Linked DNA regions of Homo sapiens. The protein of the gene in region 1 binds, or shares a complex with, the protein of each later gene. Each region holds a gene or a part of one and is shown on either strand. Other genes may lie near its edges. The genes, in order: MITF and EP300.

Region 1 (17,520 bases):
CTCCTTTGCATGTCAAGACAAGATGTGAAATAACTCTTGATAACTGTGAATATCAGATATAAGAAGGAAGCATGTCAATAGTTCATGAGATACCTGTGCCATTCCTGGGGCTTGACTAGTTTCTGTGCCTTTTCTGAAATCTGCCACTGAAAGGAGTCGGGAAGGAAATTGGCACAGCCTCTTCTAGGATAGGATTTCTACACTGTGGCATTATTAACACTGGGACGAAAGAGTCTTTGTTTTGAAAGGCTGTCTTGTGCATCGTAGGATGTTTAGCATCACCGCTGGACTCTCGCATACTGGATGCCGGTAGTAGCACCCCCTCCTCACATAGTTATGACAACCAAAAGTATCTCCAGACATTGCCTAAAATTCCTTGAAGGGCAAAACTGCCTGTACAGTTGAGAGCTCCCATCTTAATAGGCAGGAGCACCTTACTGTAAATTTCTGTGTGGGTTACTCTCCCTGTTTCCCCCACCTAACCCTTGGGTTGTAAGCCCCTTGATGATAGAAATGAAGTATTTTCTTTCATGTTGAGGTCTCGCTTTCTTTTCTGTCTACCACACAATATATAGAGATTTGAGGATTGACTATGCCATTGCTTTTTTTTTCAGACGGAGTCTCACTCTGTCGCCAGGCTGGAGTGCGGTGGCACAATCTCAGCTCACTGCAGCCTCTGCCTCCTGGGTTCAGGTGATTCTCCTGCCTCAGCCTCCCAAGTAGCTGGGACTACAGGCATATGCCACCACACCCAGCTAATTTTTATATTTTTAGTAAAGTTAGGGTTTCACCATGTTGGCCAGGATGGTCTCGATCTCTTGACGTTGTGATCCACCTGCCTTGGCCTCCCAAAGTGCTGGGATTACAGGAGTGAGCCACCACACCCGGCCGCCATTGCTTTTTAGTTTTTGTTTTTATCCAAGCCACATAATATAGTGGGTTTTTAACAAAAGGGCAGTCTTGACATTTCTCTTCTTCCCGTTTTTGTTACTGCTTCACAACTGAGTACGTAACAACTGGTACTTCAGTGATACAGTGGCCTATTTTCTTTCTTATAAAAGACATTACTATATCATACAGTATTTTAACCTTTCCTTTACAAATCTCATGATACTGAGATGCCTTTGGTTAACAAAAATTGCCATTGAGTCTGGAAGATTGTTTGTTTGCTGACTGACCAGCCCCCTCATCTCATCCTTCTCACAAAGAAAGAAAGAAAGAAACAAACCCTCAACCCTTAAATTAGTCAAAGTCCTAAGGCAGTTTTCCCAGAACAAATGTCCATATTGACTTTCTCCGTTGTTAGGTCCTGTCCTTGTTGACCCGTTGCTGGCTTGAGGGGCTGATTCTGTTCACTTTGGAATTGGGTAGCGTTTTGGTTTAACAACAGTGTCCACCCAGCGGGGGACCAAATTCTCAGGAGAAGCCTTATTTATAATAAAGCACAAAAACAAATACTCAGAAGAAATAGTGATTACATAGGCCCTCTGAACAGTTTCAAAAGCAGAAATAATTCCGTTGAAAATATGAATCCTGTAAATAACTCATAGTTTGGTAGTGTTTCATAAAGTGATTAGGAGTAAGCCTCAATTTCCTCATGCTGAAAATGGGGATAATAACATCTGCTACTTCGTAGGATTGTAATGAGGATTAAATAAGTGAATCCATTGAAAACTTTCAGAAAAACTACCTGTAACATAGCACTCAGTAATTGCTTTATTTTCTTTCTTTTGGAGATGGAGTCTTGCTCTGTCACCTAGGCTGGAATGCATTGATGCGATCTTGGCTCATTGCAACCTCTGCCTCCCGGGTTCAATCAATTCTCCTGCCTCAGCCTCCTGAGTAGCTGGGACTGCAGGCACACACCACCACACCAGGCTAATTTTTGTATTTTTAGTAGAGATGGGGTTTCACCATGTTGGCCTGAAGTGATCGGCCTGCCTTGGCCTCCCAGAGTGCTGGGATTACAGGCATGAGTCACCACACCTAGCCTATTTTCACTTTTTAATTCTTCTCCTAATTATGAGGAGTCTCTATATCTTCCCATTTTCCTACCTCCTTTAAAATTCCTACCTATATTCTCCAAAGAAGTAGTCTATCCTCTTCCTCTTTATATGCATTATCCATTATTTTTATCACACAAATCCAAATGGGACTATCCAAACCACATATATTGGCCTGGTATAGGTGTGTCCTCCCTTTACAGATTTTTATAGATTTTCAAAAAATTTTAAATCTCTGAGAATTTGCTTTGTAGAGTATGATAAGTCATAGGTTTTTGTTTGTTTTTTTTTGGCAAAGTACTTTTTATAGTGAGGAAAAATAAAGCTCTGCCTAAATACCTATGTAAGCTTAAGTTTCAGTTGATTACGTGTTTTAGATGACATCCATGTAGATCATTGGCCAATTTGTTTGAAAGAGGTAGTCATGATTTTTTTGATCTGAAAAGGTCAATATGAATTCAGTTCTGTATCCCCTGCACAAGTTTTTTAAAAAATGTTTCATTTGTGGCTAAAACACACATTCCTGATTAGATCAATGAGAGCACTCCATGGGCAAATCCAGCTTATTTTGCTAGTTAACAAGATGTTTCTCTGAGTTCTCGTGCCAGCAACGCCACAGAAGAATCACAGGAATCCTCCTGAATCCATAATCAATTCATGCAACACCAAGTCAGATCTCTTAGAAGAAAATTGCTGGTGAAGGTCCAGAATAGCAAGCTAAAAAGCAGATATTTGATACTTGCAATAGGCTGATAGGTGTGCTAAGTGCTTGCTTAGTAAACATGCTACCATAACACTTTTCCTTTTATGGAGAAAGAGGACATAAATACATAAAAATAAAATATCAAATACATAAATATGTGTGCACTGTGTGAATATGTACAGGTTGTCTCAAATTTATACGAAAGCAGAGTGAATAATAGAATGAACCCTTCGCGTAACCCATCACCCAGCTTCGAGAGTTATTGACTCGGCTCATCCTGTTTCACGGATACCTCCCTCTAACTTGCAAATCCTAGACATAATTTCATCTTTAAATCTGTCTCGTAGTTTGTTCAACCTCTCCCCAGAAAAATGTACAGTCAAAGTTTGCTTACAATTTTCAGGAATTTACAATTTCCCTAAAACCCAGTTAAAGAGAACCACTGACTGATCCAGCTCATTTGGAAGTATGAGAGGAAAGATGTCACGAAAGCCTTCTGTATGAGACTGTGGCCTGCAAGTGTCCCAGCTCTAACGTTCATGTTTTTCCCCTTTTTCTCTTACTCTCACAATCCATCTATGATATTTGAGTTAGCTAAAGAGAAAAAGATAAAAGGATACAGGAAAGAGGCTGAATATTTCCTTCATCTTTTAAAGTCCTCTCGTCTCCTTCTTGGTGGCTTTATATTTTTTTTGAGATTGTGAGCTATATGATTTAACACTAATCCACTTGGATGTGAAAGCAAAAATTCCAAGGTGAACAATCATAGAGAACATTATTTATTTACTGAGCATTTACTATGTGCCAAGTACTTTTCATGCATCTCATCACTTAAGCTTATCAGCATCTCCAGCAACTATTAGGTAGGTAGGATCCATGAGCCCATTTTGTAAACAGAAAACTGAGGTCCAAAGCATTTAAGCAACTTGCCCAGGATTTGAACTCAGATCTATTTGAAATTCCATTCAGATGTTTAACAATACTAAACTGCATCTCTCCATTTTACTCTGACAGTGGGTCGTATTCTTAGCTGTGTGTCCCAAGCAGGCATACGTGGAGTATTTTATAGCTGTGTGCACCATTTATAACAACTTCTTCATGGTGGCGTGAGGCATTTCAGAGCATTATATAAGAAAGTCTCTTAATGTTTATGCTGTTTTTAAATTAGACTTAGTGCAAGCCAAGAAGAAGCCAAGGGCATTTTCAAAGTGTTCATCAGATCATGTTGATTCTCTTTATTAAAACATCTCAATGGCTTCTTACAAGTAGTAGAGAATAAAAATCAAATTCCTTTCAATGGCCTGCAAAGCCCTACAACATCTGGCCCAGACATTCTTTTCAGGGCTCTCACTGACCTTGTCAGTACTCCAAAAGTGCTGGCTCTGTGGTTGTTGATCTTGTCCTTATTCATCCAATATGCTGGGCTGCTTCCTACCTCAGTATCTGATCTCTTCTGTACCTCACCATAGCTGGCTTCTCATCATTGAGGTTCCACCCAACTTGTTGCTTCTAGAATAGCTTTGTTGCAATGGCCTTTTTTTCTCTTTTACTGTCTGCATTGCACTTCTCATTGTATGAGATTCTTATTCCTTTGTTGGTTCATTACTCTGTGTTTGTCTCTGCTTCCCCACCTTAAATATGATTTTCATGCAATCAGGGCCTGTGCTTTAGTTGCTGCTCAGTCTTCAGCACCTAGATGAGTGCTGAGTAAATCCTGGTTGAATGAATGAATGGTTTGTTAAGTGGGGATGGTTACATTAAACCTGCATGCGAAGCTCTCAGCACAGTGCATGCCCCAGTCGGAAAGCACTGCCGAGCTGCTGCTGTTGTTGGTGAGGTTAATTCCAATCTGGAACTTCATCATAACATAATCTATAAGGCAAGTTTTAAGAATTTCCCAAGCCAATGCAGTTTCTCAAAAACCAGAAGGACCCTCAGTCTCATGATATAGATCCTGAAGTTGTGTTATTAGGAGATGGCTGCTTTTTGACAGTTTTTAGCTCATGTGGGCTTGACCTTCAAACCAGTAGCATTCAGCAGCTCTCATCTCTGCCTAGGGGCTTTCTGACCTTTTGCTTAGGCCCAAGGCAATGTTTTCATCTCTGACAAACTTGACCACTGCCAGTTTCTTAAGAGTGTCGGTACTTATGAGAAGGAGTTGTTCTGCCTGTGCTGTAATCATCTCTAATACCCGATAAACTGCAAACAATGGGGGCATTTGAGGGGGGAAATGGTACAACAAAAAGACGTCTGCGATTCTGAGGCAGGGCTAAACTGGGGCACGTGGAAAAGTTCTAGCATGTGGAATGCTGCACTCGCAGCTCCCATGGTGGGGGGGATCTGGACGGTCCTGACAATGGGCCATTATAAAGGCACTATTGAACCACGTAATTGTGGCCTTTGGAAAAACCATAAAAATGTGTCAAATATTATACAAATGCAAACTGTACAAGCTTGAATGTTAGACCAAAAATTTCAGAAAAAACAAAGTCCTCTCCATCTGATCAAACAGTTCAAGAAAAAGTTGAAACAAGGCGAATTTCACCATTGTGTAACCCCTTCATGGGTTTATTTGTTGCTTGCAAAATTTTCAGTAGAGGAATTCTGCCTGAATATATTTTCATTTGTCCAGATCTGTAGGCTTTCATTCTCATGGAATGTCTAGCTTGTTTAAATTACAAAATCAGTGTCATGTACATTATAGAAAATAATAAAATAACAATCACTGAGAATTTATCGCTCGGGAATAGTCATTGTTGAGACTTGACCGAGTAATTTGTCATTAGTTTTTTTTTTTGGCTTTGCATATATATAAATAGCATTTAAAAATCAATTTTGGATAGCAGCATGTATAGTGTTTTTAACCTGCTTTATGTTCCCATTTACATTAATGAACTTTCCGTCTCATTAAATATTGTTAGATTAACACAGTAACGGAAAACCAAACACCACATGTTCTCATTCATACGTGGGAGTTGAACAATGAGAACACATGGACACAGGGAGGGGAACATCACACACCGGAGCCTGTTGAGGGGTGGGGGACAAGGGCAGGGAGAGCATTAGGACAAATACCTAATGCATGTGGGGCTTAAAACCTAGATGACGGGTTGACAGGTGCAGCAAACCGCCATGGCAAATGTATACCTATGTAACAAACCTGCACGTTCTGCACATGTATCCCAGAACTTAAAGTAAAAAAAAAAATAAATTTGATATATGAAATTCAATGTAGTGTACTAGACAAGAAATAAACAAAAAATTGTTAGATAAAATGTGGATTGTAATGACTGCATAGGATCCATTTATATGTAGTGGTTCTCAACTGAGGGCTGTTTTGTCCCCAGGAGGCATTTAGCAATGTTTGGAGCCAGTTTTGGTTGTCATAACTGGAGTGGGACATGCTGTGTTACTTGGCATCTAATGGGTATAGATTAGGGATGCTGGGAGACAGCAGGCAGTTCACACATCACCCCCACAACAAAGCAGTATCTGGCTCCAGTGTCAATAGTGCTGAGGCTGAAAGCCTGAACTATATGGCTTCCTTATAATTAATTGAATCCATGGCCTATGAGATATTTGTTTTCAATTTTTTTATTAGAAATTAATGGCTGAAAAACTTTATCTATAAAAAACAGAGTGTTTTAGACTTTTGGGGCCGTCGGGTCCATTACTCAACTATGCTCTTGTACTGTTATAGCTTGAAAGCAGCCATAGACTATACTTAAATGAAAGTATGGATGTTTTCCAATAAAACCTTATTGACAAAAATGGGCGGCATGCCCCAGGCAGTAGTCCACCTACTTCTGTTAGAGATAATGCTCTAATAGATGTCTGTGTACCTAAATCTTTGTCCCGTATCTGATCATCTCCTTAGAAAAGTTCTTGAAAAGAGCCATTGCTGCATGGGCAACATGTATGTATCTTTTTAAAGTTTATATCCGTTTATTTTATTTTATCTTTTACAGTTCTACCTATTTATTTTATTTTCTCCTATGAGATTGTTCATTTCATGTAGCTTTCTGAACACACTTGCGCCACCATCATTCTATCAGATTTGGAACCTTGTTCAGGGATATGAAGTGTGAATGGGTAAGGTAGGATTTGCAGATTTAAAAGTCTTCAGGAATCAGACGGGTTAATGAATAAAGTAGTCCAGTTGTCAGTGTCAGAATAAAGAGTGATGAGAGTTGCAGAATGAAAAGTAAGTGCTCATTGAAAGGGAGAAGCTACTTCTCAACTCTGTTGCTTTTCAACTCTGATAAGTTGCTGGCCCAGTAGGAGTGCAGTTTGGTATCTCTAGATCTTCTGATTTATCAACCAGAAAAGAGAAATCCAAACTCTGGTTTGAGAAACCAGATTTTGGGTTGAAAACTCCCAATTTTTCATCATTGGTGACAAATTCATAGAACACTAAATTCTGTCTAGGTGAACAGACTTGCCTGTGGTTTGTGTCCATGGACTGCCAGCTTGGGGACCTTGGAATAACTGTGACTTATCTAGGGGTCTACAGCTAGAGGTGAAAGCAAATCTCAGGCTTCCGGCCGGTCATTTGAGACCCACAGGGCCCTACTGGCTTGTTGTACTGCTAGATGAGAGCTGTAAGAATTGGCAATCTTTGGGCAGCCCCTGATAGATAAGGAAGCTTTATCATGTGAAGTAGGGTGGCAGGCTGTGAATCAACTGCCTGGCCTGAAGACTTAGTTCCTCTAGAGCTTTCTAACTTAGGAAGACTGAGGGACTGTCACACTTCATTTCCTCAGGACGTTTCCAGAGGTGGTCAGAATCCTAGCCTACAACCCCTGCCTACACAATGTGGCCCCTTGTTCTTCGGTTCTGCCCCTTATCCATGCACGCCAGCCACAGTGGTTCCACACTGCTTCACTGACGTACCAAATACTTGCTGAGTGCCCACAGTGTGCCAAGCTGTGTTCTGGACAAAGCAGAGCAGAGGAGGGAGAATCAGGAGCACTGGTAGCATGTGGGCTGGATATGTGAATATGTCCTTAAGATAGTTATAGGAGACAAGGTCAATGAGGTAATGCTCCTGGGGTGGGGTGGAGTGGGAGAAGTAGGCACAGTGGACAGGGGTCTGTAGAATCTACGTGGAGAACTAACAAGCTAGTGTGGATTTCTGAACACCATACCCAGAGATTCTGATTCATTAGCTCTGGTTTGGGGCCCTGGAATGTGCATTTCTAATAAGCACTGTGAATAGCATTGATGTAGGGACTTCTAGGCCATTGCAAATACTTTGTTTTTGTTTTTTTTTCTCAGAAATAAGTAGGGAACCATTACAGAGGTGGGGTTTTTCTTTTTGTTTGTTTTGGTTTAGTTTCTATAGAGAAATGACTTGATCTGACAATATCACAAGATCCCCCTATTCATTGTATTGAAAATACACCGTCAGAGTGCCAAGACAGAAGCAGGTAGAAGAGTCAGGAAGCTTTCCATCATCTAAGTTTGAAGAGATGGTGGCTTGGATCAGATGGTAACAGTGGAGCATGAAAATCCATCATATTCTGATTATTTTCTGAAGATGGAAACAATATTTCTTGATGGGTTGGATCCAGGGTATGAAAGAAAGGAGTCAAAGATAACCATGATTTGTAGAATGAGCAACTAGGTTAAGCCAGAGGAAGACCATTTTTTGACCTACCCCCGCCCCCAACAAAAATGGCAATTTTCTATGTTTCAACCTAATAGAAAAAAATGGAGTTGCCAACTGTGAAAATGCAGAAGACCGTGGGAGGAGCCAATTTGGAAGAGTGGATGAACATGCTGAGCTTGAGAGTCTGCAGTCCTCCAAACGGTGCCGTCTCGTAGGCCAGTGGAGATGAGTCTGGTTCTCAGAGACCTCTGTTCTGGGGTGCTTAAATCCATGTGACTGGGTTCGATCACCAGGGCTGGGAGTGTAGATAGATGAAATCAAGCTCGGATCCTTGAGGCACTCTGACATTTAGAGGGGAGAAGAGGAGAAAACTAGCTAAGGAGAGTGAGAAGAAATGAAGAACGTGAGAGAAAAACCAGGCAAGTGTGGTAAATCGAAAGCCAAGTAAATAACATGTATTAAGAGCCTCCTTGCTGTTCTTTGAGCAACCAAGGCTTGTTCACACCTGAGGGCTGTATGCTTGGCTGGAATGCCGTTCCTGCCAATCTGCCTGGCTCATCTCACCAACTTCAGGTCTGGGCGTCAATGTCATACTCTGTGAGGCCCTTACCTAAACACACTGTGTAAGATTTGCACAGTTGCCTGGCATCTAGTTGGTGCTCAAGCAATATTTGTTGATTGAATGGTGAACATATAACTTTTGATGAAGGCAGCAGTCCAGGTGAGAACATATGAAAGCCTTGCTGCTCGGGATGTAGTGTGTTCCCTGGACCGGCTGGGTCAGCATCCCCTGGCAACTTGTTAGAAATGCAGAAATCTTGGGCTCTAGCCCAGACTTGTGGCATCACACTCTGCATTTAACAAGATCCTCCAGTGATTTGTGTACACATTAACATTTGCTCCCAGTCCTGTATTTAATTTTCTATGAATGTCAAGAGGACAATTGAGTATACTCTCTCAGATGGGAACAACTCAAAGTAAGAAGTTAAAACAATCAAAATCAAATATCTTCAGTGGTTGTTTCTGTATTCAATCAGAAAGCTATGATACAGTTTAAAAGCAAAAGAAAACTGTGTCGAGACTTTCAAGAATATTTTATGTGATTATCCCCCTATCTTTTTTACTTTTATTTTATGTGGTTATTCCACATATCTTTCTTACTTTTACTTTGAATTGACATAAGCTAGGAGCGCATGTAAAATGCATGGCATCTGGTACATGGTAGACAAGTTTGAGAGAATGAGCACTAATTCCGTTCTTTATATTTTAAAACATCGTGCTATATAATGTAACATATCCACTCATAATGTCTTATAAGACCCTCATTTAAGAGAAATGGTTTTCTCTTCTATTCGGCTGAGATAAAACCACATGTTCTTTTTATTATCATGGTCTTTGGCTTATTTTAGCCTGAGGGAGAAAAAAATAATGTATATATTAGGGATTTTCTTATGATAACACCTTTTTTCTGAGGCTACTAAATATTGTTTGTCCTAAAACCAAAGTATGCCTGTCTTGTGGTTTATAATAAGCATACTGTTTTATAGGTCATTAGCTAAGGATAAAAGACTTGCTGGGAATTTTTGATAGGGCTAGTCTAGTCTATTCTGTTTTAACATCAAATTTTCAGAAAAGTACATTTGTTATCCTTTTCTTTTATACATATTTACAGCTCAATTCTCTGAATTCAGAAGCCTACAATGTAATAAGACAGGAAGTAGTATGAAAGTATACAGACCCATAAATATGTGATATAAATGTATATATATTTATTTGTGCACACCTGGGATATGCACCTGGAATATGCACCTGGAATACACCCCTGGATTTACACAGTTTTATCTTCCCTTCTTATTCAGTTAAAGTCCTAGATCAGAACTGACCCACAGAAGAGGGAGCTTCTCTAGTTCGCCTCTGCGGACAGAATAATGGAGACATGGCTATGGTTTCTAACCCTGGCAAGTTGTTTAGGTTTCCTCTTAGTTTCTGTTTTCTTTAGCTTTAAAAAGGGTGGGGGGTAATTAAGCATATCCTGTATTCTTACAAAGATGCTTGTCCAGTTAAGACAGTAGTTGGAAAAACAACTGTAAAATTACGTATACATATACTATTTCTCTTTATTAAAATCACCCCATTCTTTCCTTCAAATCCTGCTAAAACTTCTGTTGAGTAGGAAAGTTCAATTCTAGTTTGGTGAAACTTTCCTAGAGAGCAGGGGTCAGCATTTTCTATAAAAAGCCACAATGTAGATAATTTTAGGCCTTGGGGGCCCTGCAGACTCTGTTGCTACTCTTCAAATCTGCTATTGCAGCAAGGGAGCCGCCCTGGACAACATGTCAACTAATGGGTGTGGCTGTGTTCTGATAAAACTTTATTTATCCACATTGAAATCTGAATTTTATATAATTTTCATGTGTCATGAAATATTCTTCTTTTCATTTTTTTTCAACTATTTAAAAATGTAAAATCCATTCTTACTTTATAGACCATACAGGCAGCAGACCGAGTTGGGCTGATGGGTGGACAGACTCCTGTTGTAGAGAAAAAGCACTGGGTTTGTCAACCATAGCCATTTCGAACCTTTCTTTATTTAAGACTCTTTGGTTTGCTTTGTATTTGCATCTGATTTTGATTCTTCTCCCTTAGGCCAGGATTCATACCCTTGTTGTTTTTACTTTTTGTTAAGGACAGCTTTGTACAGATTGTACAGTAAACAAGATTATATGTCCAAGGATATATGTTCTGGGCTTTTGTTTTCTTTTGTGGTAATGTAATTGTGGGACTGAAAAGAACCTCGACACTTAATCAGATGTGACCTTTTGCAAGACTATCCTAGTTATTTAAGAAAGCTAGCTTTCTCTGTTTTACCGCTTTTTTCAGGAAATATGATTGCATAACTGACATTCTCTATGGATTGCCATTTTTAAAACAGTATGAAAAGAATAGTGGTGTGGTGATAGATAACAATTGATTAAAGGGTAATCCCTTTAGTTTTCTTTAAACTTGCTGAGCAAAAGAACAAATTATCTCTCTAAACATAAGTGATAAATCTGAACATTTTGTTGAATTATTAAAAATATATATATATAAAGCCATTTGAGTGTAGAAGCATGTCATAGCTACTCAGGAGGCTGAAGTGGGAAGATCACTTGAGCCCAGGAGTTCAAGGCTGTAGTGTGCCATGATTGCACTTGTGAATAGCCACTGCACTCCAGCCTGGGCAACATAGCAAGACCCTTATCTCTAAAAATATAATAAATAAATAAATAAACTAAAAGGATTAAGAAAATCTACACTCGCTTCTACTTGAATTCTGGTTTACAAATAGTAGAGAGAATAGAAGAATAGTGGATATCTAGATAGGGATATTTCTTCCCCAGTAAATTCTGTTGTCAGCCAAGATGGTAGTATCTATAGCTACCATCTTAAACTGACATGTGATGTGCTCCAGGATCTCTTTAGAATGAAACTGATGGAAAATAACCTGTCAGTTTTACCCAGGAAGTGGTAAAGCTGAAGTGTGACAGTTAGGAGGTGATCCATTCCGATTCTCTTGCTATCCATTCAAGATCTGAATGAAGAAAGGAAACAGGTGAAATTACAGGAGTGCTAACAATGAATAAAAGTTACAAAGCCTTTGGGTGTTTGCCCTTTAACTCAGATAGCTAGCATAATTTATATGAAATATAAGTTATATCAATAAATAATATTTTATGATAAAGTATTCTAGCTTTATTTTGCTGTCTATACTTCAGGTGTTCAGCAGTACTCAACTTTTGCTATCTGAATTTCTTAGTGTGGTTAGTCATCTGGAAAGTCAAAAACATGCAAACATTATCAGGAAATCATAAAGATGTTTCTGTCCTCTTTAATGCTACATATATGTTCTCATTTGCATACTTCTTTGGCTATTTAAAAATTAATGAAAGCAAAGTTATTGACTAAAAAGCTATGAATTAGGGTGGCTGAAGACAGAAAATTATATTTATATGGCTTTTTAAGTTGTCAAAGGGCTATAGAGCCTCATAATAATGCTATGAGGGAGTTTGGACAGGGTTAGTATCTTTCTCCAGCATCTTCTCAGGGAGGGAAGTAAACATAGAGAGGCTATGTCACACACCACCTGTCCACAGTGGGGAGTGACATTGCTGGTGCAGTGATGATGCTAGAATGCCAACCACATTCTAGATCAGGGGTTCTCAAAGTGTGATCAGAGGGCCCTGGTTGTATCTAAGACCCTTGCAGGAGTTCTGCCAGATCTGGACTATTTCAGAATAACACTAAGATATTGTTTTCCTTTTTCACTCTCATTTCACCAGTAAACAATAGAGTTTTCCGAAGGCTACATGTCGTGTTGAGATGTCATTGTTCTGACATCCTGTGAGATATCTACTAATGTATAATCGTGTGTTTTCAAAAATTCTCAATTTTAATTTCTAATATGCTAAATATTGATAGATATAATCCATGTAAACACAATAAATTTAAAGAGTGTAAAAGGATCCTAAGACAAAAATGTTTGAGAATTGCTGTTTTAGATATTGTGCTAAGGCCGTTAGAAACATGATCTCATTTAATGCAGAAAACACACATATGAGGCAAGCTCTACTGTCATTCCCATTCAATATGCTAGGAGATGAGGGCCTGGAGAAGTTAATGAATTGCAGAAGGTACACGGGTTGTTAAGTTGCAAAGATAGAATCTGAACCCAGGTTTCAAGTTAAGAACTCCACTGTCTGTGTTGTCAGGCACATTGTCTTTCAAAGAAGCACCAGGAAATGCCTGGATTTGGACTAATTTCTCAGAAGAGAAACTTCTTCCCATAACCTAGGCTATCTCCAAGGGAATGTAAATATGAAGATTATCCTTATAGACAGTGTAAAATAGAGATTATTTTCTAGTAGTTTGTGGGCCGAGGCTTGTACTCTGTGAAACACAAAACAGTTGAGCATCGGATCTTTAAACCTGGAGGATTTTACTTAAAAAAGAAGTTTGGATTGCCAGCTACCCTTGAAAAATTTGGAGATTTTGAGCTAGGCTGGACTCATATTCCCACATGGCCACAATCAGCTGCAGTTTTTATCTGCTGTTCCTGCTAGATAGATGTGTGTCCTCTGGTTTGCCACAGACCTCACTACTCCTTATTACCTTCCTCGTAGCTCATGTTCCTCATTTATGTTGCCTGTTTGAGGTATTTGGGTTAGAAACAGCTGGAGATGTTCTGTCTACTGCATAGTGTTTATAGGCCATCTGCTTTCAACTTACGTGAAAAATAAAAAGTTATTAACAGTAAAAGAGCCAAATATATCCCATTCTGCTTACCCAAACCTGGATGTAATAAAGACCTCACTGACAGTGCCACATAGAAAGCAAATTGCTTCTTTCTTTACTAAAGCATAATATTCTGATTCATTAAAGAATTAGGATCTGCCAGTGAATTAACATTTATTTTTAAACATGAATCTCTTTTCTTTTTAAGTGTAATAGTGAAATAAGCACATTCTACTCATTGCCCTCATTTTATGTTTATTTTAGTAATGTCTACTGTCATCATTATCATGTCTGGACCCTTTATAAAAAAAAAATCTCTGTGAACCTCTGTGTACATATTAAATCAGTCATTTGAAACAATATGAGATTGTCAACCTAACGGACTGCATTATCCTGGGCATTTAGACAACATTATTGAACTTCAAATTTTTAGCTTAACATAACATTTGTCAGCAGTAGATATTAAGCATTTATCATAATTTATAAGTATATATTTGCTTGCCTCTTTTCTTTTTTTGCCTCACCCCAGAATATAAGTTTCATAAAGCTGGAAACTATATCTGTTTGTTCACAATGTATATTCTATGCTTTGTACAGTGTTTAGCACTTAACAGTCAATAATGAATGAATAAAGGAATAAATATGTAAATATATCAGTGTTGTATATGATAACTCATTCTTCTGTAATCTTAAGAATAATATGTAAAAATTCTCAGCAAAAATGCTCATGCTTTTTTCATTTGAGAATTAAATAGGGGAGATATTTATTTCTTATTATCCACATAAATATATATCCACTTCTGTGTGTGCTATGTTCTATTTAGGATAGTGCCCGGTCTTCCTGATGTGAGGTCAATAGGCAGGTTACACATCTATGTAGCTAAGAATAAGGTGCATATTAAGACCAGGATGCAAGAAGAGGCTGTTGAACTTGAACATTCAGCACAGAGTCTCTTCTCTTCTATACTAAAAGATAGTCATCCTGCAGTCGGAAGTGGCAGTTATTCGGCCATTGGAAAAGTCTCATGTAATAGTAGCTTTTAGATGATGTCTCCTCCAAAGGGGCATTCTGCTATTAACCTATTGCTGAAAGAGAAATACCATTGTCTATTAATACTACTGGAACTAAAGATGAATAGTGAATTGGCCTTGATCTGACAGTGAGTTTGACTTTGATAGCTCGTCACTTAAAAAGGTTCTTTTATATTTATGAAAAAAAGCATGACGTCAAGCCAGGGGGAAAAATTGATATCAACATTTAAGACCAAACTCGTAGGGCTTCCAAAAAAAAGGCCCTTATGTGAACGTTTTTTTTTACATGCATAACTAATTAGCTTAGGTTATTATAAGCAGGGCTTCTGTGATAAAGTTTCCGGTGGTGTCTCGGGATACCTTGTTTATAGTACCTTCTCTTTGCCAGTCCATCTTCAAATTGGAATTATAGAAAGTAGAGGGAGGGATAGTCTACCGTCTCTCACTGGATTGGTGCCACCTAAAACATTGTTATGCTGGAAATGCTAGAATATAATCACTATCAGGTGAGATTTATTCTGACTCATATTCAGTCTTTGAAATATAATGCAATAAATTGATTTAATCCACTTTTTGTTATTGTAATAGACATACTGTTTTCAATAAGTATAAATCTGCTCTTTTAATGCTGTTTATTATTTGATGCCATAAGAAGTAATTCAATGTAGTTTTGAACAAAGTAAATATTAGTAGGATTCTTTTTTTTTTTTTTTTTTGGCCTAGTGTGTGGCTAAACTATCTTCATCAGCTCCTGTTCATTGCTCATAAGATTAAATTGTCTTTATCAAGAAAAAAGTGACTTAAAATTGAATAATGTTGTTTTTTGGGGAAAAGTATTTCTCGTTCTGAATTAATGTCTGTAGGAAAGGAGAAAAAACATCCTGTTGGCTTGTTAATAGTCATGTCTTTTAAAACACATACGTGTAAGTGTTATGCATTTGAAAGAAACTACTTAATGTAGAATTGCTTTTTATGTTGAGTTTTTTCTTAATTACAATGTTGAATAATCATGTCCAAATGAAAAGTGGGAGAATTAATCCACAACTAGTTGATTTAATCATTGGAAGATTTATATTTATTTTCTACAGCCATTTTACACAGTTGGTTCTTAAGGAGGTGTGTGTGTGTGTGTGTGTGTGTGTGTGTGTGTGTGTGTTTTAAAAAGAAAGCTGTTCTGTTCGCCAAGGAAAGTGAAACAAACAATTATGCCACTTCTACATTGTTGTTTGATCTTAATAAACCCTTTCATGTGTGTTGGGGAAATTTTTGCCCTAAGATAATTTCAAACTTTTAATTATTAGATATGAGAAGAAGGATACAAGGTTTGAAAGAGACGTATAGTTAATTAGCAGGGAAATAAAATAGGGCAAAGTATTACACCAAATCCTACTAGTTAGACTTTAAACTTCAGTAATATCAAAATCCGTTAGCACAGTGCCTGGTACATAACAAAGGCTTAATAATTTATTCTGTTGGTGGCCTGGTCAGTTTCATGTTTGTGCCTGAAGGAAGAGCCGTCTGAAACTCACAAATAACAGCGCTGTTTTCTTTTCCCTCCATGGCTATGTTCAGGTGCAGACCCACCTCGAAAACCCCACCAAGTACCACATACAGCAAGCCCAACGGCAGCAGGTAAAGCAGTACCTTTCTACCACTTTAGCAAATAAACATGCCAACCAAGTCCTGAGCTTGCCATGTCCAAACCAGCCTGGCGATCATGTCATGCCACCGGTGCCGGGGAGCAGCGCACCCAACAGCCCCATGGCTATGCTTACGCTTAACTCCAACTGTGAAAAAGAGGTAATTCATGTCTCCTCTCCTCTCCTGTTTTCTTATGCTAAATAACTTGTCTGTTGAATATGATTCCCACACTTAACTGTGGACTCTAGTTTGTCCTTGTGGCCACATTTACCAGCCTTTGTCCCCGATTCACCATCGTGGCTGTGGCATTCCAGCCTGTTGTCTCCATCGCTGGGTTATTGGGTGTAGAGCACATGACGGGAGACCTGGCCCTCTCCAAGTGAAATGTGGAGGCGAGGACACTTTTGCCACTTGCTTCTTCTTCCTTAGCTGAGTGCTCTCTTCTCTTCCATGCCTTTCAGTTTATGAAGCAGTGAGAATGCAGAGAGAGGAGAAGGGGAGGTGGAAAAGGAAAAGCAAAAATAGAAGAGGTGTGGGACATGCTGTTTAGAAGTTCCGCTTGTTGTGAATGTCTGGAATATTATTTTTATTTCTCCCTGAGTTGGGGGAAGAAAGAATGGAATATGCATGGATGGATTTGAATCATATAGCACATGAGACTTTAACGGAAACGCAAAGGTTTAATTGCTGGATACATTCTGTTTCATAATAAAATTGCCACTGCCCGTTAAATCTGCTTTGGTGAAGGCTGGATTGGAAACAAGACTCAAACTACCTTCAAGCTAATTGGTGCATCAAAATTTGCAGCATACAAATACCTGAGAGCTGTGATTTAATGCTCATTATTTCCAAATTATGAGATGATGAGCTTCATCTCAATGGGATTTACCGTACTATGGACTATGAAGTGTTTATGCAAATTCGGAGGCAACTTTTCTAGAGTTGGATTGATTTTAATTTCTAGAGGGACTAAAATCTTTGCCCCTATGCCCAAACCAACTGCTTTATTTTTCTCTACCCAAATTTGTCATCTAGCAAGATGATTTGACACAAGTTCTTCCTTCATTATTTCATCTTTTGGTCAGATTCCACTTTGTTTGAAAGCTTAGTTCATCTTGTTGCTGTGCCATCAGCTTTGTGTGAACAGGTCATTAAAAAGTCATTTGCAAATCCAAGTTATAGACTGTTTTTGCTTGTGTTTTTGCAGGGATTTTATAAGTTTGAAGAGCAAAACAGGGCAGAGAGCGAGTGCCCAGGCA
Region 2 (8,618 bases), on another chromosome or scaffold:
TTCACTCATTTCTGTATAAATGTGAGCTCCTCTGAAGCAGACATCTTTGAAATCCCCACACACTGCCAGATAATGATAGTTATCAATGAAATAGTTGCTGGTTCTTTGATGTACAATCAGCCAACCAGTATTTACAAGTCTTAATTCTCCTGTTCTTAAGCATAATTAAGGGAGGTGAAATGGGCAGAGCAAATGAAAGCACCATGAATAAATATAAGCCAAGAAATAGGTGGCTAATTCTGCTATCCTGTTGCTTACCTTACATTCTGATTGTATCGTTGGCAGACTCTGCGTGTGTCTCACCTACTTCCCTTTTTTTTCTGCCCAGCTTTCCCAGCCAGCTGTAAGCATTGAAGGACAGGTATCAAATCCTCCATCTACTAGTAGCACAGAAGTGAATTCTCAGGCCATTGCTGAGAAGCAGCCTTCCCAGGAAGTGAAGATGGAGGCCAAAATGGAAGTGGATCAACCAGAACCAGCAGATACTCAGCCGGAGGATATTTCAGAGGTGAGAGTAGGGCAATTACTGTTTGATTTGGTTAGGACCTCAGTATAGGAACCCAAGTTTTAAAAAATATTGCAGAAAAATATTTTGATAATTAGATCTCATGGCATAGATTTTGCATGAGAAAGGGTGTTCAGATTACTGATTCCCAACTAGATATCTTTGGAATACTAAAAATTCTTACGTTTTCTTTTAGTCTAAAGTGGAAGACTGTAAAATGGAATCTACCGAAACAGAAGAGAGAAGCACTGAGTTAAAAACTGAAATAAAAGAGGAGGAAGACCAGCCAAGTACTTCAGCTACCCAGTCATCTCCGGCTCCAGGACAGTCAAAGAAAAAGAGTGAGTCTCTGAAGCCATTCGTTCTGGAGGTAGCTGAAGAAACCAAAGACCCAGGGCAGAATTGCGGTCATGCCTCTTGGGCCTCAGAAGTTGCCATTATTGTGATTTCATTAACCTGGAAGCCCTGGGCCTGGTCTCTTCATTGTTACTAATAATTTTTCTTTCTTTTTTTTTTTTTTAATATTCACTTGCAGCAACCAATGAGTTAAGTCATTCCCCTCATTTCTTCAGGGTTCCCTGTGTTAGTACACCCTAAAAATTGTCTCATTTTTCAGGAGAGAGAAATGTTTGTAAATAGCCTTGACTAAAATGCAGGAAAGAATAGCAATAGTAATAGCATTTGTCATTCACCTGCTGTGTGCTAAGTATCCACATTGTCTCATTTAATAATTTCTTTCTTTCTTTTTCTTTTCTTTTTTGTTTGGAATCGGATTCTCACTTTTGTTGTTCAGGCTGGAGTGCAGTGGCGGGATCTGAGCTCACTGCAACCTCCACCTCCCAGGTTCAAGCGATTCTCCTGCCTCAGCCTCCCGAGTATCTGGGACTGCATGCGCATGCCACCATGCCCGTCTAATTTTTGTATTTTTAGTAGAGACAGGATTTCACCGTGTTGGCCAGGATGGTCTCGATCTCTTGACCTGGTGATCCACCCGCTTCGAGCTCCCAAAGTGCTGGGATTACAGGCATGAGCTACCACACCCGGCCTCATTTAATAATTTCACAACAGCTCTGAGGTTATTGGCCTGAAGCTTAGCAAAGTTAAGTAACTTTCCACAGGTTACTCAGCTGACCCTACTGCCTGGGCCAGGAAGCAGACCCAGGCAGTCTGAGGCAGAGTGCTCAAATCCAGCCATTCCAACAAGTGTTAATTGACTATTTTAGGACTAGAACTTTTGTGGCTCTAGTGATCTGCAAAAGGCACCAGGTAGGACATACCTGAGGAGTGAGTCTGCTGGCTCTTACAGATGATATATATTGAAAAGTGTTCCATTAATACAATGTGTTGTAAAATGTTGGGATTAAAAAATTATTTTCATTTTAAAAATAAGACTTGTATATATTGAGGTGTTTTAATATGGGCTGTAACAAACCCAGTCTTACTATTGGCAATCTCTCTTTAAAATGTGTGTTCCCTCATGCCTGTAATCCCACCGCTTTGGGAGGCCGAGCGGGCAGATCACTTGAGGTCAGGAGTTCAAGACCAGCCTGGCCAATATGGTGAAACTCTGTCTCTACTAAAAGTACAAAAGTTAGCCGGGTGTGGTGGCTCTCACCCGTAGTCCCATCTACTTGGGAGGCTGAGGCAGAAGAATCACTTGAACCCGGGAGATGGAAGGAGGTTGCAGTGAGCCAAGATGGCGCCACTGCACTCCAGCCTGAGTGACAGAGAGTAATTGTCTCAAACAAATAAATAAAATAAAATGTCTAATTTCACAAGTTTATTCAAATAGTCCTTATTTTTAGCACAGCTAAATATGAGTGACAAGCATCTTCGTAGTCTGGTTTCCCCCCACTCCATGGCAACCCCCCAGAGGTGAAAATTATCTGAAGTAACAAATATACTCTACCGATGATGAAATTTTTTTTGCCAATTAAGAAAAAATAAGGCCCTTGCTGAAATTGAAAGCTTTTTAAATCACTGGCTTCTCAAAGAACTGTTTGATTCCATTTGGGACACACCAACAAATTTTTCCGGACTTTTTGGGAAATATCATTGAGAACACATTTGAACTTAATTTGATCAACTAAGTCTATTATTTTAGCAATACCATTTTTGTTCTCTCTTCTTTTAAACTTAAACCTAACATTTGTCATTAAAATAGTACATGTCTCTTTTTCTTTGGCTCTAAAATACCAAGCATTTGAACGAAGGAGTCTTCTCTTCTGTGCCCCTGACTCCTTGTAGTATAAGACAATACCTGATCTAGTCTAGTTTCTGACTTGTTAAATACTGATGTCATGAAGAAAGACTTTTCTGTTCTTGCTTGACTGCATCTCCCTCTTAACACGAGTATCTTGTGCACTCTTTTTTTTTTTTTTTTTTTTTTTGAGATGGGGCCTCATTCTGTTGCCTAGGCTGGAGTGCAGTGGCGCCATCTCGGCTCACTGCAACATCTGCCTCCCGAGTTCAAGCAGTTCTCTTGCCTCAAGCCTCCTGAGTAGCTGAGACTAGCATGCCACCATGTCCGACTAATTTTTTATATTTTTAGTAGAGACGAGGTTTCACCATGTTGGCCAGGCTGAAACTTCTGACCTCAAAGTGATCTGCCCACCTCAGCCTCCACCGTGCCTGGTCCCATGGACTCTTATTTGGCAAAGTCTCTTCATAAATTTTTAGAAGCCTTTGGATTCTGCTTCTAATTGACCGAGTCTGTCTTCACTGACTTTGTGACTGAAAAGTTAAGCTGAGGGTGAAGAGTGTTTTAAGGTGATAAGACACAATGTTTTTTAGGAGCTGTCTGAAACAAAGCGGGGCTTAGAATCTAGAATCAGTGATTGAGCCTGTAGTGATATTTCCATGGGGACAGAGTGGTTAATTTTGTTATTGATTCTTGAGATGCTTTTAGAGCTTCAGGCTGAATGATTTTTTAAAGTTCTTCTGCTTAATTGGTAACTAATTTCAAATGCACTTTTTTTTTTTAAGTTTTCAAACCAGAAGAACTACGACAGGCACTGATGCCAACTTTGGAGGCACTTTACCGTCAGGATCCAGAATCCCTTCCCTTTCGTCAACCTGTGGACCCTCAGCTTTTAGGAATCCCTGTAAGTATTTGGTGGTACTTTTGATTTTATTTTTTAATTTGATAACAGCTTTATTGAGAGATAATTCACATTCCAAACAGTATAGCCACTCATTTCAAATTTGTAATTCAGTGATTTTTTTTTTTTCCCCCTGAGACAGGGTCTTATTCTGGTTGCCTAGGCTGGAGTGCAGTGGCACGATCGTGGCTCACTACTGTCTCCACCTCCCGGGCTCAGGTGATTCTCCCACCTCAGCATCCTGAGTAGCTGGGATAACTACATTCATGTGCCACCTCACCTGGCTAGTTTTTTGTATTTTTTAGTAGAGACGGGGTTTCGCCATGTTGCCCAGGCTGGTCTTGAACGCCTGGACTCAAGCAATAGGCCCATCTCAGCCTCCCAGAGTGCTGGAATTACAGGTGTGAGCCACTGGGCCTGGCCTAATTCAGGGAGTTTTAGTATATTCACAGAGTTGTGCATGACACTTTCATTTTCATCATCTGAAAAAAATCCTTTACCATTAACAGTCACTCACTATTTTCTCCCATAGCACCCCAATCCTAGACATCACCAGACTGCATTCTGTCTCTGGATTTGTCTGTTCTACATGTTTCATTAAATTGGAACATACAGTATGTGATTCTTTGTGCCAGGACGTTCCTTAGCATAATGTTTTCAAGGTTCATCCATGTTGTAGCATGAATCAGTAGCACATACCTATTTATAGCCCAATAATATTCCATTATTTTTCTTTACCTGTTGATGAGTTGATAGACATTTAGGTTGTTTACACGTTTTGACTATTAAGATAGGACTGTAGTGAACATTGTGTGGATTTAAGTTTTTATTTCTCCTTGGTATTTACCTAGGAGTGGAATTCCTGGGTTATATAGTTTGTTTACTTTTTTGTTGTTGTTATTTGTTTTTTGTTTTTTTGAGATGGAGTTTCACTCTTGTTGCCCAGGCTAGAGTGCAATGGCGCAATCTCAGTTCACCTCAACCTCCCCCTCCCGGGTTCAAGCAGTTCTCCTACCTCTCAGCCTCCCGAGTAGCTGGGATTACAGGCATGTGCCACCATGCCCGGCTAATTTTGTATTTTTAGTAGAGATGGGGTTTCTGTATGTTGGTCAGGCTGGTCTCAAACTCCCAACCTCAGATGATCCACCCACCTCGGCCTCCCAGAATGCCCAGATTACAGGCGTGAGCCACCGCACCCGGCCACTTTCGTTGTTTCAAGAGCAATAGGTCATAGCAGAAAAAAGGACCGTGGTTAGCTTTGTTTTTAAAGTTGCCTCCATATACTAGGCTGCTGGCAGATTTCATTTGGTGGTTTTAAACTGTTACTTGGCCGGGCACGGTGGCTAACGCCTGTAATCCCAACACTTTTGGAGGCCAAGGCAGGCAGATCACTTGAGTTCAGGAGTTGGAGACCAGCCTCACCAACATGGTGAAACCCCATCTCTACTAAAAATATAAAAAGTAACTGGGCGTGGTGGTGCACGCCTGTAATCCTGGCTACTTGGGAGGCTGAGGCAGGTGAATAGTTTGAACGACCCTGGGAGGCAGAGGTTGCACTGAGCCAAGATTGCACCACTGCACTCCAGCCTGGGCAACATGTTGACAGAGACTCCATCTCAAAGGTCAAGTGCTTCCAGGGGCAAAAGCCTTTTAGGACTTTTCCTCTCTTGTATCTTGCTGTGATTTCAGATGGAACATTTTAAGTTCTGTGGGCTTAGTTTCCTCATTGTACACCCCTTCTAGTACTAAAATTTTAAATGTCTTTGACTTTACTGATCTCACATGTACTTTCATAAAGAACCTGAAGTTGCTTCAGTAGAATATCAGCCTGATGTCTAGAAAGTCCATAGTAGTTCTGTTTCTCTGCCCTTTGAGTAGTTTAATATCTCTGTAAACTAATATTTAAAGAAGTGATGGACATCAGTCACCTCTTGGGGAATATAGACAGGCCAGAAACTAAAACACTGCCTGGAAAATTAACAATGATAATGGATGATACTCCATCTCCCGTAAAAATAGTGAGACTTGAGTAATGTTTGATGTCACTTGTCTTTCTAGGATTACTTTGATATTGTGAAGAGCCCCATGGATCTTTCTACCATTAAGAGGAAGTTAGACACTGGACAGTATCAGGAGCCCTGGCAGTATGTCGATGATATTTGGCTTATGTTCAATAATGCCTGGTTATATAACCGGAAAACATCACGGGTATACAAATACTGCTCCAAGCTCTCTGAGGTCTTTGAACAAGAAATTGACCCAGTGATGCAAAGCCTTGGATACTGTTGTGGCAGAAAGGTAAGAAATGTGTTTCAGATTTGACTTTAACTTTTCTGGGATACCTAGAATAATATAGTGGTGACTGGGATAAGAGAATATCCTGCTTCTGGCTTTGACATGGCTTTTTTTTTTTTTTTTTTTTTTCCTTTTTGACAGGGTCTTATTCTCCCAGGCTGGAGTGCAGTGGTGAGGTCATAGCTCACTGCAGCTTCAACCTCCTGGGCTCAAGCAATTCTCCCACCTCAGCCTCCTGAGCAGCTGGGACTACAGCCGTACGCCACCATGCCTGGCTGATTTTTTAAATTTGTTTTGTAGAAACAGGGTCTCATGATGTTGCTCAGGCTAGTCTTGAACTCCTGGGCTCAAGCAGTCCTCCTGCCTCGGCCTCCCAAAGTGCTGGAATTACAGTCATGAGCCACCTCTCCCAGCCAACACAGTCTTTCTCTTACTGTGTGCCACAGTAGTAATATCTCTTAATATGAAATGGGCTTTCTTTAAAGGCATTTTTTCAGAGTGGCAATTGTATGGAAAAGTTGACTAATTAAATAATCAACAGACTGTTAACTCATCTGGAGTAGGGGCATTCTTATATTCACCTGTGGGTGCAGATTCCTCAGCATGTGCTGGCTTTCCTGTACATACCAATTCACATTATTGGTTTTTTGTTTTTAAAATAAGACTATGGTCTTGCTGTGTTGCCTAAGCTGGTCTGGAACTCTTGGGCTCACGCAGTCTTCCCACCTCAGCTTCTGAGCACTGCAGGCATGTGCCACCCTGCCCAGCTATTCCTGTTAGGTTCTTTGGTAAAGTGATGGAAGGATATGACTGCTAAGCCTACCTCAGCGTTTTGAAATAATGTGGTAGTAAACTGAGAATGATTTTCAGGAACTGAATTAGCCCATCATTATTAACATAAATGAGAACTAAGACACCACTGACTTCTGTTTCTGACTTGCCATTCTTACTGTTCTAGCTTGTCCTTAAGGCCTCTGTGCTTTTTAACAAATGGTTTCTTTTGCAGTTGGAGTTCTCTCCACAGACACTGTGTTGCTACGGCAAACAGTTGTGCACAATACCTCGTGATGCCACTTATTACAGTTACCAGAACAGGTAAGCTTGGCCAGGTGTGGACCATGGTCCATGTGTCCACATGTCCAGGGAGTGCATGCGGATGGGCCAGCACACATACAGTCATGGTTCATGTGTATCTTGCTTGAAGACAGCTGTATAGCACAAGTTCTGTTTTTTGCCTTCTGCCTTTGTTTGCAGAACAATAAAATTTTCTATCAGAGTAGCCTTGCATCAGTTACCTGGGTTCCTCCCAAGAGCTTGAGAAGTTAAGCAACTTTGTGAGTTGTTGGCCTAGATGGGTCTATATCCCAGGCCCCACTTCTCTTTCTACTGTGTGTTTGTTGATCACCACAGCCTGAGGCAAAACTGAGAAGATTTTTAAACTTTTAACTGAAACTCGCTAGACAGCTTTTTGGAAATATTTCCTTTTTAGATGAGGCCTATCCCTAAGTAGTTGTTATTAGAATATATGAAAACAGGATTCTGGAGTCTTTTCTTTGCCTCATATTAAGCAAATTAAAAGGAAAACCTCACATAGCTCTCTGTACCTTACTTTTCCCAACCCAGCCTTGTATGTGACAGAGGATGATTTGAGTCTAATAAACGAGGCACCTCTGCCTAATTTTCTCCTGCCCAATCAATGGCTGTAATCACATAAATCTCATTCACTAATCTATCTTAACCACAATTTGTCTCCTGTTTTCAGTGATCAGCTACAAGTATAGCTTGCATTGGGTGTTTATTTGGGGCTCTGATACAATAATAACAAGGCTGGATGATATTAATACCCTTTATTTGTTTGTTAATACCAAATCCATGGTGTTGGTTTTTGCTGAACTTGTGTGTTGCAGATGCATTTCTAGCTTTGAAAAGTCACTTAAACTTTTTCTTTTATTTACAAAAAGTTAGGCGTGCTTCTAATGCTTTGTAGACCTAATGCTTTGATTTTGCAGTGAGTAAAAATCTAGCTCTTTACTCATTTGAAACCTAGAAAAGGTGGGACTCAAGTTGTTATAAGTACCTTATGTTTAAAAAAGCAAGTAACTGGACATGAAACTTTTCTCATGTTTACTAAAACAGTAGTCTAAAGTGTTTATCTTTGCACCAAGCCATCTTTAATCAGGTACCTGCACACATCATTTCCTTTTGAAATGTATCACTTGATGGCTGTAGTCAGTATTTAACTGCTTGTGCAGGCTTTTCAATAAACAGTTTTTTTTCTTTCTTTGTTGAGACAGGGTCTCACTCTGTCACTCAGGCTGGAGTGCAGTGGCGCAATCTTAGCTCACTGCAACCTCTGCCTCCCGGGTTCAAGCGATTCTCCTGCCTCAGCCTTCCAAATAGTTGGGATTACAGGTGTGTGCCACCATGCCTTGCTTATTTTTGTATTTTTAGTAGAGACAGGGTTTCAGCATGTTGGCCAGGCTGGTCTCGATCTCCTGACCTCAGATGATCCACCCTCTCAGCCTTCCAAAGTGCTAGGATTATAGGTATGAGCCACCACGCCTGGCAATGGTTGTTTTAGATTATTGTTTTCTGCAGTTGTATCTATAGTGGGCTTTTGGGGTGGGGGGTGGGGGTCTGTGGTTTTTTGTTTTGTAAGTGGGAAGAGGTGTGATTCCTGTATTTAGGTAATGAGTAGCAGTTCTTCTCTCCCTGGT

Evidence for each region.
Region 2: the proteins of MITF (region 1) and EP300 are in contact, whole or in part, in an NMR structure (PDB 8E1D), measured with the Homo sapiens proteins. Residues at the interface, in NP_001341533.1 of Homo sapiens: Val226, Ile230, Leu233, Glu234, Ser235, Tyr237, Asn238, Glu239, Glu240, Ile241, Asp246; in NP_001420.2 of Homo sapiens: Ala1723, Ser1726, Pro1727, Gly1728, Arg1731, Ser1734, Ile1735, Pro1780, Lys1783, Gln1784, Ala1787, Leu1788, Lys1794.

What each region holds. Positions count from the first base shown.
Region 1 is NC_000003.12:69,921,630-69,939,149, forward strand, and holds part of MITF (microphthalmia-associated transcription factor), read left to right. Parts: intron 1-14,962; exon of another isoform or gene 14,963-15,093; coding exon of another isoform or gene 15,094-15,126; intron 15,127-16,192; coding exon 16,193-16,420; intron 16,421-16,722; coding exon of another isoform or gene 16,723-16,737; exon of another isoform or gene 16,738-17,436; intron 17,437-17,468; coding exon 17,469-17,520. UniProt on the Homo sapiens protein: Transcription factor that acts as a master regulator of melanocyte survival and differentiation as well as melanosome biogenesis.
Region 2 is NC_000022.11:41,151,505-41,160,122, forward strand, and holds part of EP300 (histone acetyltransferase p300), read left to right. Parts: intron 1-328; coding exon 329-508; intron 509-701; coding exon 702-846; intron 847-3,490; coding exon 3,491-3,609; intron 3,610-5,664; coding exon 5,665-5,904; intron 5,905-6,907; coding exon 6,908-6,996; intron 6,997-8,618. UniProt on the Homo sapiens protein: Functions as a histone acetyltransferase and regulates transcription via chromatin remodeling. Acetylates all four core histones in nucleosomes. Histone acetylation gives an epigenetic tag for transcriptional activation.